Linked DNA regions of Homo sapiens: region 1 is linked to region 2. Evidence: fine-mapped expression QTL. Tissue or cell type: skeletal muscle. Region 2 holds a variant in brackets; the other region holds the start of a gene. All regions are shown on one strand. Distances are from middle to middle. Region 1 holds the start of SMOC1 (SPARC related modular calcium binding 1). Region 2 overlaps SMOC1 (SPARC related modular calcium binding 1).

What was found. PIP is the estimated chance that this variant, and not a neighbour inherited with it, causes the effect.
Region 1: it holds the start of SMOC1, and the variant in region 2 is fine-mapped to the expression of SMOC1 in skeletal muscle (FUSION, PIP 0.95).

The regions. Positions count from the first base shown.
Region 1 is chr14:69,877,066-69,882,409 of GRCh38, reverse strand. SMOC1 (SPARC related modular calcium binding 1) reads right to left here and starts at 2,994. Exons shown (of 12, transcript NM_001034852.3): 1 at 2,633-2,994. The coding sequence starts at 2,731. RefSeq lists a silencer at 2,807-2,896.
Region 2 is chr14:69,927,575-69,932,940 of GRCh38, reverse strand. The region is part of intron 1 of SMOC1 (SPARC related modular calcium binding 1); the gene reads right to left. Among named protein-coding and RNA genes, the nearest start is that of SNORD169, 48 kb to the left of the region's middle. The variant C/T (reference allele first, on the strand shown) is at 2,181.

The DNA.
Region 1 (5,344 bases), 51 kb after region 2:
ACTGGGGTCTAGGCCTCGGGGGAGCTCAATTAGTGAGCCAGATAAAGTTAAACTGAAAGGGCATGCTCTTGGTTTCCTAGAAAGCCAGCTGGAAAAGATGCCAATCCTTAAGCCTCTGTCACTCAAAAGATTAACAGAAGAGACTTAGGAGCGCCCACAGGGAATAATGCAACAAGCCAGATGTTTCTGCTCCTCGGATGACGCCGCTCTCAACAACCAGAGCTACACTTTTGAGGCCCCCAATAAGCCATAGAAAAGAACTGGAGTCTTTGGGGATAGGTTGAAATTCAGTCATTTGCCTTAAGTGATACAGACACCAAAAAAATATTAACAATTTCTCTGCAGACTCCCCTGATGTATCCGGGTTCTGTATTTCTCATCGAGCCATCTCTTTCTTTAACAGAAACAGCATCACTCGGATGAACACTCACTATAGCTGCCTGGTGGTGGGGAGAGCACACAACTTTTCAATCCATATAAACTGGAAGCTCAGGCAAGTCGATTGGCCACCCTGAGTCTCACTTTGTCATCTGTAAAATGGCTTTTAAAAGACCCAACTTCTTGTTCTCGTTCGAGTAAGAGATCATGTAAAGTGCCCAGCCCAGATGTTCATAAGTGGTAGCTCTTATTGTTATCTATAAACACAACCAGGTAACCACATGCTCGAGACAGCACCTTCTCCTTGGTACTTTCTAAACACACCAAGATGTGTGTGCACATGTGTGTGTGTGTTTGTGCATGTATGTATTTGAGTGAGAGAGAGAAAGAGGGAAAAAAAGAAAGAAGGAGAGAGAGAGTGTGAAGCAGCTTGGACATACACCAGCCTATTTACAATTCCTGCTTACGTTCCATCACTTCTATCAAATTAATAAACTAGAGGAGCTGGAAGGAACCTAACCACGGTGCCTGATTTCCCCTCAAGTCCCTAGCTTTCCCCTAAAGGTTGCTTCCTCTGATTCCAGGAGGCCAGGAAGGAGAGCCATATGGCTTGAGACTCTAGACAAGCCCAGCAGCAAACAAACGAGCCCCCCACCATTTGTCTCAGGGCCTCTCTCCTTTCGACCCTCCTGTGGGCGGCCATCCAGATTTCAGTCGGGGTGCTCTGGTCTGCATCTCTGTCTTGACTGTTCCTAATTATTGGAGGGAACGCATGGCTCGCCTGACCTCAGAGTTTAAGAGCTCTGAGTCCTAATATCAAACCAAGCAGCTTCATTTAAAAGGCATCCTCATCTGCATCCATAAAAGTCACTCCTGGAGCCCTTACTTGCCCCAGCTTTGGGAATGCCTGCTGTCGAGGATTTATGACACGCCCTGGATCTAATCTGCCACACTTTAACTGCTGCTGTTGCACATCTGGTCATAAAAGCAAGGGCTGGCCCAACACGGGGACAAACACTTTTCTTTCCTAAATGGCTGCAAATCTGATCTCACAGTGATACCTGGGCTTGGATGTAATCAACCCAGCATCTGGGCAGTCATTAAGACTTGTCAAGCATTGCAAGACTTTTTCTCCACACGACAGCTATAAAGATGATTCTCATATAGTAAAAGCTATGAATAAACAACCTGCAATCTGAACAGGTGGTAAAGGGCCAGGCCCAAGGATGTTCAAGAAAGAAAGCACGAGTTGGTTGAGCCAACCTTGTTTTCACAAAGATCCTAGCTACTTTCACATGGACTCTCAGGCTGCCAGTTAAGAGTCAATTGCCCTGACATAAACTGATGCTTGGCCAGAGATTGCCTGGATTAAGTTTGGTCAAAAGAACCACTAGGTCGTTTAATAGTACATGTTTCAAGGCAGTGAAATTCTTTATTAGACCAATTGGTGGGGGGTGTTGCGGGGATAATCTAGACCAGAAATGAACACAATACTGTCGGTTCCAGGAGATTTTACAATGCCCTGGACAATCTGTCCTGTGCACAGAATTGGCAGGTTTCATGTCGTTCAGAAACTCCAATCAGACCAAGGTTCAACGAGTAATTCAACCTCCCAGCACTGAACCCAGGGGGAGAGACCCCTGAACATTGCGCAACTCTCCCCTCCCACCTCTTTACAGTACCCCACCTCTGACCCTCTTCCAGTGCCTGCCCGGCAGGAGGTGACATTAAAATTATCTGCTGTGGGTTTTACGAGCAGTGATCGCTTTTTAAAACAACAACACAAGGTCCTTGTGTGGCTCGCGGGTAACCTAAAACTCTCCAGGCAGAGCTGCACCCGCCCCCGTCCCAACCCCCGCCGCCTGCCAACAACTCCAGCGCGCTGGACCGGGCGCCAGCGTGAGACCACAGGGAAGCCCTGCATGAGCGGAGAGCGAGCTTCTCTCCGACGCAGGAGGCACCTCTGAGGGTCTTGAGCAAAATGCAGGAGAGAAGAGATTGGGAAAGAAAACCCACCAGTGACAGTTCGGGGACAGGGGAGGGATGGTGGGTCAAGAAAGGGAGAGTGGTGGTGGCTCCAATGGGAGAAAAAAAATATTTCAGCAACTTCACCAAGCCCGCAGGGGACCTGGTAGTAGACAGAGGACAACAGGTCTCTGACATCTCTCTTCCCCCTCCTCCTTCCCTCAGGGATGAGGGGGGAAGCAACCTCCCCTCCCTCCGCAGGTGGGCGCAAAGCTGGGGGCGCACTTACCCTGGGGCCTGTGGTGCGGTGGCCGCGAGCAGGGGACAGCTGCACCAACACCAGCAGCAAGTGGGGCGTGAGCAGGCGGGCGCAGCGCGCGGGCAGCATGGTGCCAGCCAGGCTGGGCAGCCGGCAGCGAGCGGGGTTCGCGGGCTCCGCGGGGCGCACAGCGCGCCTCCCTTCCTTCCTTCGCTCGGGGCCCTCGCGGCGGCGGGGAGCGGGCCGTGGTCCTGCGGCGGGGGCTCGCAGAGGCTGCGGTCAGGGGACACAGTCATGAACCGCGCAGGAGGGGAGCTGGAGCGCGAGCGTGTGCTCTGCGCGCGGCGCTAGCTCCGCTCGGCGGGGCCCAGGCGGCAGCAGGTTGGACGCCTGAGCCCGGGCCATGGGAATTCCCGTTATAAACCCCCGGGAGGGGCGGGGCGGAGCACGGCGGGCCTGATTGACGGGCCAAGAGGCCTGTTGAAGCCGACCCTCTGGCAGGTGAAAGCCAATGGGAGAGGGGCAAGAGGAGCCACTCGTGGTCAACCCCCCGCCGAGGAGCTCCGCGGGAGTAGGCCCCGGGAGAGAGTGGGATAAAGAGTAACTTTCTCCCGGCACTCCTGCCCGAGGAAGCCTGAGAGAGCCCCAGCAGCCGGCACCCACCAGAAGGCTCACCTGGCTAATAATAATGCCTTAAGCATGTATATTTCTTAGCTCAAGCTCGTGATTGTCCCAACATCCTGGTGAAGTAGGCAGGGAAAATACTCCTAGCCCCATTTATCAGATGAGAATGCTGTGACACGAAGGCGCCGAGAGATCTGCCTCCCTGCTGCATCTGGGAAGAGTAACTGGGAAGTCGCTGGATGACCCGCACAGGGTGGGCTGTGGCGTTGGAGTGGGGAATGGGAGCATCCACTTCTTTCAAAGACTCTCCCTGGGAGGTGACATCCTGAGTCTCACAGCGGCTGCCCCGGGAGAAGTCGCAAGGGACAAGGTGAAGCGTGTGCTGGGCATTGGCCGCTGGGGAGGGCCTCTTGGGTACGGTAACCCCCTACACACACACACACACACACACACACACACACACACACACACACACACACACACATCTCCCAGCCCTATGGTCCGTATGATCCAGGATTGGAACTCAGGCATCCTAGCTTCCCCCTCTGAACTGGAGGGCAAGGGGCAGCCTCTCTATAGCCCAGCAGCTCTGGAAGAGGCGGGCAGAGAGGCCCTGGTCCCCTGATGGGAGACAAGGAGGAAAAGTATAGATGAGGAGGCGGCAGTCTGAGGATGCAGAGATCCCAGAGATGGGGTAGAACAAGGAGAGGAGATCTCTCCCGGGTGCCCGACCCTCTTGGAGAGGACAGCTCAGCGGAGCTTCAGTCAGATGTTGGGGGGCTCTGCCCAGGGCCATCCCCGGAAGGCCATCTTGGGAATGGTCACAGCTGCATCACACCGGCTCCTCAACAGAGCAAGGTGCTCAGCTGCCTTCAGTGAGACTGACATCTCCAGGAAATCACAGGGAAGGGGGCGGGGGGGCGCAAAATGAAACCCAGAGCGATCTCCTTATGTGGAGAACAACCTTTAGTGCTTACTTCCATCAGTATGGGCTACTTCGCAGGGAGGGATTCTTTTCTATAATTTGATTGTAAGCATCAGTGCCACACTCCCCCTCCCTATCTGGTCTGAGAGGTCCTAAGATTAGCTCTGCTCCCTCAGGGCTTCTCTCCTGGATTCCATGAAACAGCTTCGCACCTGACTCCTGAATTCAGTTTTGCCCTCTCTCCACACTGGCCCCATCCAACCTCCACACGGCAGCCAGTGTGTCTATTCGCTATTTAGAAGCCAGTGATCCTTTTAAGCAGCAAACCGGAACTCACCATTCCCTGCTTAAACGACTTCCCCTCTCCCCATTGCCCTCTGACAAGAAAGCTCAGACTGGATGCTGGAACAATAACAAAGTACTTGTGGTTCTCCAAACAAAAATGAAGCGCACTTCTAAAAGAATGGTCTATCTTTTCCTCCACTGGGAATGAGTGCTTTGGTCAGACAGACTCTGGAGCTGTACAGCAGGGTTCAAATCCTGAGTCTGCCACCTAGTGGTATAAGCTTGAAGAAGTCACTTGACTCATCCAGGGTCCCGTTTTTCTCTCTGTAAAATGGGGATAAAAATAGTATCCCCTGCCATGAGATGTTGTCAAAAGTAAAGGAGATGGAGTCTTTAAAGCCCTTAAAATAATTAAGTGAAAAGTATCACAATATGGCATTTGAAGAGGACAGGACAAATGCCTCATCTCATTTTATCCTCAGAACAATCTTCTGAAATAGGTCAGACATTCCTACTTTACAGGTAGATAAGTGAATACTCCATGAGATTGTGACTTGCCTGGCCTCATTTGGCTGGCAAATGACAGAGCCGAGACGCCGAGACTCAAGGCAAGGTTTTTGGAGTCTAATTCTGCTTCCATCATGTGATGGCTGCAATCTCCAGTCTCAAATCCCATAGGGTTGGACGTTCCTCTGTGCTAATTGGGAATTTCTTCAGTGGCCTACAAGGTGAACTGAGACTGGTGAGCTCCACTGAGCTTCAGAGGAAAAGGATGTAAACATCAGGGGTCAGCCCTTCCTGGAAACAGCCCTTGTGACCTGGCATCCTGGAGTTTGCCCAGCTGGACTTGTGACACTTGTCCAGTACCGTGCCCTGTGCAGCACTGACATCAATATCCATGTGTCCAC
Region 2 (5,366 bases):
AACTACTGCCCTAGGTTGGTGTAGTCTTGCACAGCTTCCGTCAGAATTGCTCAGAATGTCTCATCGGCTTACAGAAGGTGACAGAAGAACTGCTGCCAGCGTCCCCAAAATACTTCCAGCCCTGCCAGAGCTGCCTTTGCTCTGCACCCCCCGCCCACTCCATCACAGCTCCTGTAAGTGGTCACCAGGAAAAAGCCGCACTGCCCTGCCAGTGTCTCTCCATCTTCCGGCACAGGGGCTCCCAAAGCACAGGGGTCGGTCCCCAGGACCACAAAGCCGCCTTTGAATGAATAGAGCAGAGGCCGGCTGTGATATCAGAACAAAGACTGAATGTGCCTAATCCGGCCTTTGAGAGCCGGAGGAGAGGGCTGCACCTGTATGAACAATGCTGCATCTGAAGCCCAAATGGCACCGAAAGGTTCCTCCAGCTCCCACTGCCCCCATTCCTCCTGATGCCTTTGTGGCGGCTTTGTTCCTCACTTCTACCACTCCTTTCACTCAGCACACCCCCAGCCCCAGGGACAGGAGGAGGCATGTGGGGCTGAGGGTGGCGTGGTAGTAAAGTCCCGGAAGGCCCCAGCGCAGCAGAGGAAGCTCATCACCTGTAACATAGTCGTGCATTCTACAGCAAAACAGCAAGTTTACTATAAAGCCACTGACCCCCTCCTGAGCCCTTCAGGAAGCTGTTCCTGTTCAGGGGCTGTGCCTGTGGCTTCACACATCTGCAGGCAAAACAAAGCACCCCGCTGGTGGACTCGTGTTTTGCGAAACACAGAGGGTAGTGGTGAAGAAGGGTGTTCCCGTTCCCTTGAGCATGCCTTCACCATACAACCCACCACGCACCTGTTGGAGGGTTGAGGAACAGCTCGGGTTCTGAGGAACGGGATGGCAAAGCCACTCTTTGGACTGCCAGAACAGGCGGATGCTCCATGGCTTTGGCCCTGGTGAGGTCAGTGCCCCGCTCCCTGCGCGACACCTGCTCCACTTCTCATCCCACGCCTTGAGGTATAGCTTGACTCAAGCTGCGTCACAGGAGGGAAAAGTGAAGAAAGCCCTCAGCTAATGACAAGAATCAGAAGTAGAAAGGCAGATTCCAGCCAAAAGTCTGTAGTCCTTTAACTGGACACTAAAGCGTGGCCATTTCTTTCTCTCCTTCCCCACCTTTCTCCATGTAAACCTTGACAGCTGCCACCGCCACATCCCCTGATTTTCAGGAGAATCTTCTCTTATTTTTCATAATTGTGGTAAGACCTGGTACTGCCATAGTCTCCCTCAGCCATCCTTTCTAAACATCTAATGGCTCTCTAGAAATCCTTCCTTAAATCCAACCTAAATCCCTTGTGCTGCAATCTAAGCTTATTTCCTGTTGATCAATTCAACAATTATTTCTTAAGTGCTCATTAGAGGCTTGACCCAGCGCCTGCTGTCAGCTCCCAAAGAACATGATCTGGCTCCTTCCTCCAAAAGCCAATGCTCTGGGTCAAGAGAAAAGACCAACAAACAAGGAAGAGCTATACACTGCCCGCCTGTCATGGAATTGTCCAGAGGACGACAGCGAGTGGAGCTGAAGGTCTTGGAGAAGGAGGAGTTGGGGCAGCTGGGAAGACTGCCCGGAGGGAGCGGGACTCAGGCTGCCCCTTGAAGGATAAATAACATTTGGCCTCATGGCTGAGACGAGGAAAGGCATGTCAGGCAGAGGAGAGCACCCTGAATAAAACGGCCATGCGTGCGCAGGAGACAGAGGAGACGCCCATGTGGCTGCTGCCAGATGTCTGTGTGAAGGTGGGATGGCTCCCTCAAGACAGCCGAGCCTCAGTTCTGTGGCCCAGAAAGAACCCGTGGAAGCTTGGGTAGGAAAGTCACTCCATAAAACTGATGTTTTCAGCTGCTTGTTCTGGCCACAGAGGGCAGAACAGAGTGAAGGGGAAAGAGAATAAATGCAAAATGGACAGTTAAGAGGCACTGGCACAAATGCAAGCATGAGGTGTTGACAGCAGCCCGGGCTACACTGTGGCAGTGGAGATGGAAAAGAAGAATCAACACAGGAGATGGTTTAGAGGAAGATTCTGGAAGCAGCTGTCGCCATCTCTGGTTCCAGCCTACTTCAGCAAATGCAATGGAATCAGGTCACCCCCTGCATTCCCAGCTCCAGGCCAAGAGCTGCATCAGGCACTGGGGTG[C/T]GAGTGTCCTTGCCTGGGAAGCCGGCTTCAGAAGCCACTAGCTGGCCAGGCTCTCAAGGTCCTCCCTTGACAGAGCTTTTCTGAGGCCTAAGCCCTGAGGCCCAGGAACTCCCATTTCCTGACCCTTTCTCTTGCATACCCAGGGGCCCTTCCTCAGACCTCCTACTCCTAAAACCCCAGCCCAGTGACCTGGCTGCCATCACTTACCCAGAAAAAGTGGCTGGAACTGACTCGGTGTTGTTCCTCTGCACCCAGTCAGCTGCTAAGGGGAAAAACAGCCCTGCCCCAAAGCCACAGTTTGGTTCAAGCAATTTAAACATAATGTTGCACAAAAGAGGACTCGGTTTCTGCTCACCCTCATGCCAAGAGCACATCCATCCAACCTGAGCAATGTTTTTGGCACATCGCAAGTGCCCCTACAGACCTCTCAAGTGAGGTGATCCGGCAGCTGACGGCCTTCTGGGACGGGCAGTGTGGTGGGATGGGCAGTGAGGTCCCTCGGTAACTGGCTGGAGAGGTGCAGAGGTGGGAAGGGTGCTGTCAGGGGGGTGAGAAGGGTGCTGTCAGGGGAGTGGGAAGGGTGCTGTCAGGGGTACAGTCACTGGGGATGAAAGGGGTGAGGGCAGAGGTGGGAACAGAATCAGGAATGATCCAGAAGCCAAGCAGCAGAAGCACATGTGGATTCCACAGCCCATCTCTGAAGTGGATACAGGGGTTGGGGCTGCTCCCCCAGCCACGTCTCTGCCTCCCTAGGGGAGGGTCACCACAGATGTGGGGCCGAACTCTCAAGTCCTGTACCAGACCCTACTTGCATCTCCAGAAAAGAGACTGATCCTAGCTTGGCCCAGACACCAGGAAGAGGTTTCTGAGTAAGAAGGCCTCTCTTTTCCTTCGTCAGCCTAACGCCTCTGGGGCTGCCTCCTTCCCTGTCCGACCAAGAAACAAGCCCCACAATCTGGCCAAACTCCCAATTACCAGTAAGAAGCAGTTCCACCTGTGTTTAATCCAGAACCAAGAAGCTCTTTATTGAGTTGTACTTTTCCCCCGGGAGATCATATCCCTCCCTTCTTCTCCAGGGGCTTGGATTCCCAAAGAAGCCTCCAAGATTCAATACTCTGGCTTCCCTGAGCCCCAGGCTTCCCTCTCACACAGCTTCCAGGACATGTCTCTAAAACACCCCAATGTCTTAGAAAGCACTCGGTTTCTCAGGCATCTCTGTGGCCAACGTAGCACAGTAGTTAAGAGTATGGCGTTTAGAATCAGACAGACCAGGATTTCAAATCCCAGCTCTATGACTTACTTGCCGCATGACCTTAGGCAAGTCACTTAACCTCTCTGAGCCTCAGCTTCTTCATCTGTAAAATAAGAATGCTCATTCCATGGATTGGTCATGAGGAATAGTGAGATGATGCATGTAAAGCTTGTAGCCTGGCACACTGTAAATACTCAATAAATGGTAGCTATGTTTATTAGGACTCTTCCACAGCCCTCAGACTGAAATTGTTTGGGGGAGGCAGATGGAGTAGGGAATGGAAGGGAAAGGCTTCAGCAAATGGGGTGCCTCCTCCCTCTTCCTTCCATAATGGGCGAGCATAGAGCCTCCAGGGATCTCTGATGTGGCAGATGCTGGACAGTCACTATAAAGACATGAGATGCCACCTCAAGAAGGTCTCTTCCTATGCAGCTTGCAAGCTTGCAACCCCGGGGAGACTCCCAGCTCCTGGAAGAGACCTTCCTGAGGGATCAGGACCCTCCAGAGAGTTTCACTCCAGTGTACAGAGACTTCCAGATGGTCATTCCTTCTCCAGAAAGGTATCTTTCCCTGTCCAATATCCCAGCATCAACACCACCTAAGAGTTGGGGGCTTGACCCCAACTGTTAAATTTATGACAAGTGTAGAAAATAAGAACATACATAAGCAGAGGAAGCATTATATTTAATATACGCATGCTTTAACTATTCAGGCTTTGAAGATATATAATATTAATAACTCTACTCAGATGGGTACATTAATTAGGCAAAATGGAGTTCAAAGAATTCTCCATTAATCTAGACTTTCCTCCCAAATTGATATGTGAAGCAGGCTCTTGTTTCACTTGTACTCTGAAATAAAGTCCTGGGAAGCAGAAAAGGGACCCCCCCCCCAATGAGCACCTCTAAAGTAGTGCACATAGAAACCCCAAGGCACCCAGCCACACCACACCAAGGATCAGGAAGATCCAGAGCTGGAACCTCGCTGGAGTTTGCAAATCCAGCTATAAAGCTGTCTGGGCTGGGTCGGACCCTCACCCCTGGCTGGCTCTGGCTCTAGCCTCAAACACACTGAGCCTGGATAAACAAACAGGGGATTACGCTGACCCAGACTACGAGGAGACTGCATTTTTGCCTTCTGAAAAAGTCGCAATTTGCCAAGAAAAACCATCTCTGATTCAGACAAGGAAAATCTCGAAATAAATCAGAGCTGCACACAGACCCGGCATAGCTGAGGAAGTCTGCCTGCTTCCTGGAGGAGGAGGGCTGACTCAAGGTAAGCCCAACCTCCTGCTTTCCAGCCTGGCAAGCCAGTGACCAGCATCAGCCATCTGGGTGCCAGCCTGAAGATTCAGATACACAGATCCTCCTCCAGGCCTGGCCTTGGGCAAGTCCCTTCTCCTCACTGGGCCTCAGATGTGAAGCTTCCTGGACTTCATTCAAAGCACCTTTTCTCTTTGGCAGGAATCGCACTGCATCGTGCCCAGCATCCCTCCTTTCCCTACTTGCCCAGTTCCCCACTGCCTTCTCTTCCCTGCACTGACCCCTTCACCCCTCTGTTTATTCTTCCTCAAGGGGTCCCTCTTAGCTTCAAGTTACAGGACACAAAGGAACTCGGATCCATTACCCCTGGAGGAGGTGACCTGAAAGTCCCTGCGGAATGCTCAGTCCTGCCAAGTACTTGGTTCAGAAGTGAGCAGTCAAGTACTAGCACCAGGCCCTGCTAGCCTCCCTTCAGAAAACCAGAGCAATGGCTGGAGAAGTGTCTCCACCCCCAAGCAATCCTGCCCCTCCTCGGAAGTTTCCCTCCTACCACCTTTTTGTTGTGGTGGTTGAGATGGAATCTGACTCTGTCGTCCAAGCTGGAGTGCAGTGGCGCAATCTTGGCTCACTGCAACCTCTGCCTCTGGGGCTCAGGCAATCCTCCCACCTCAG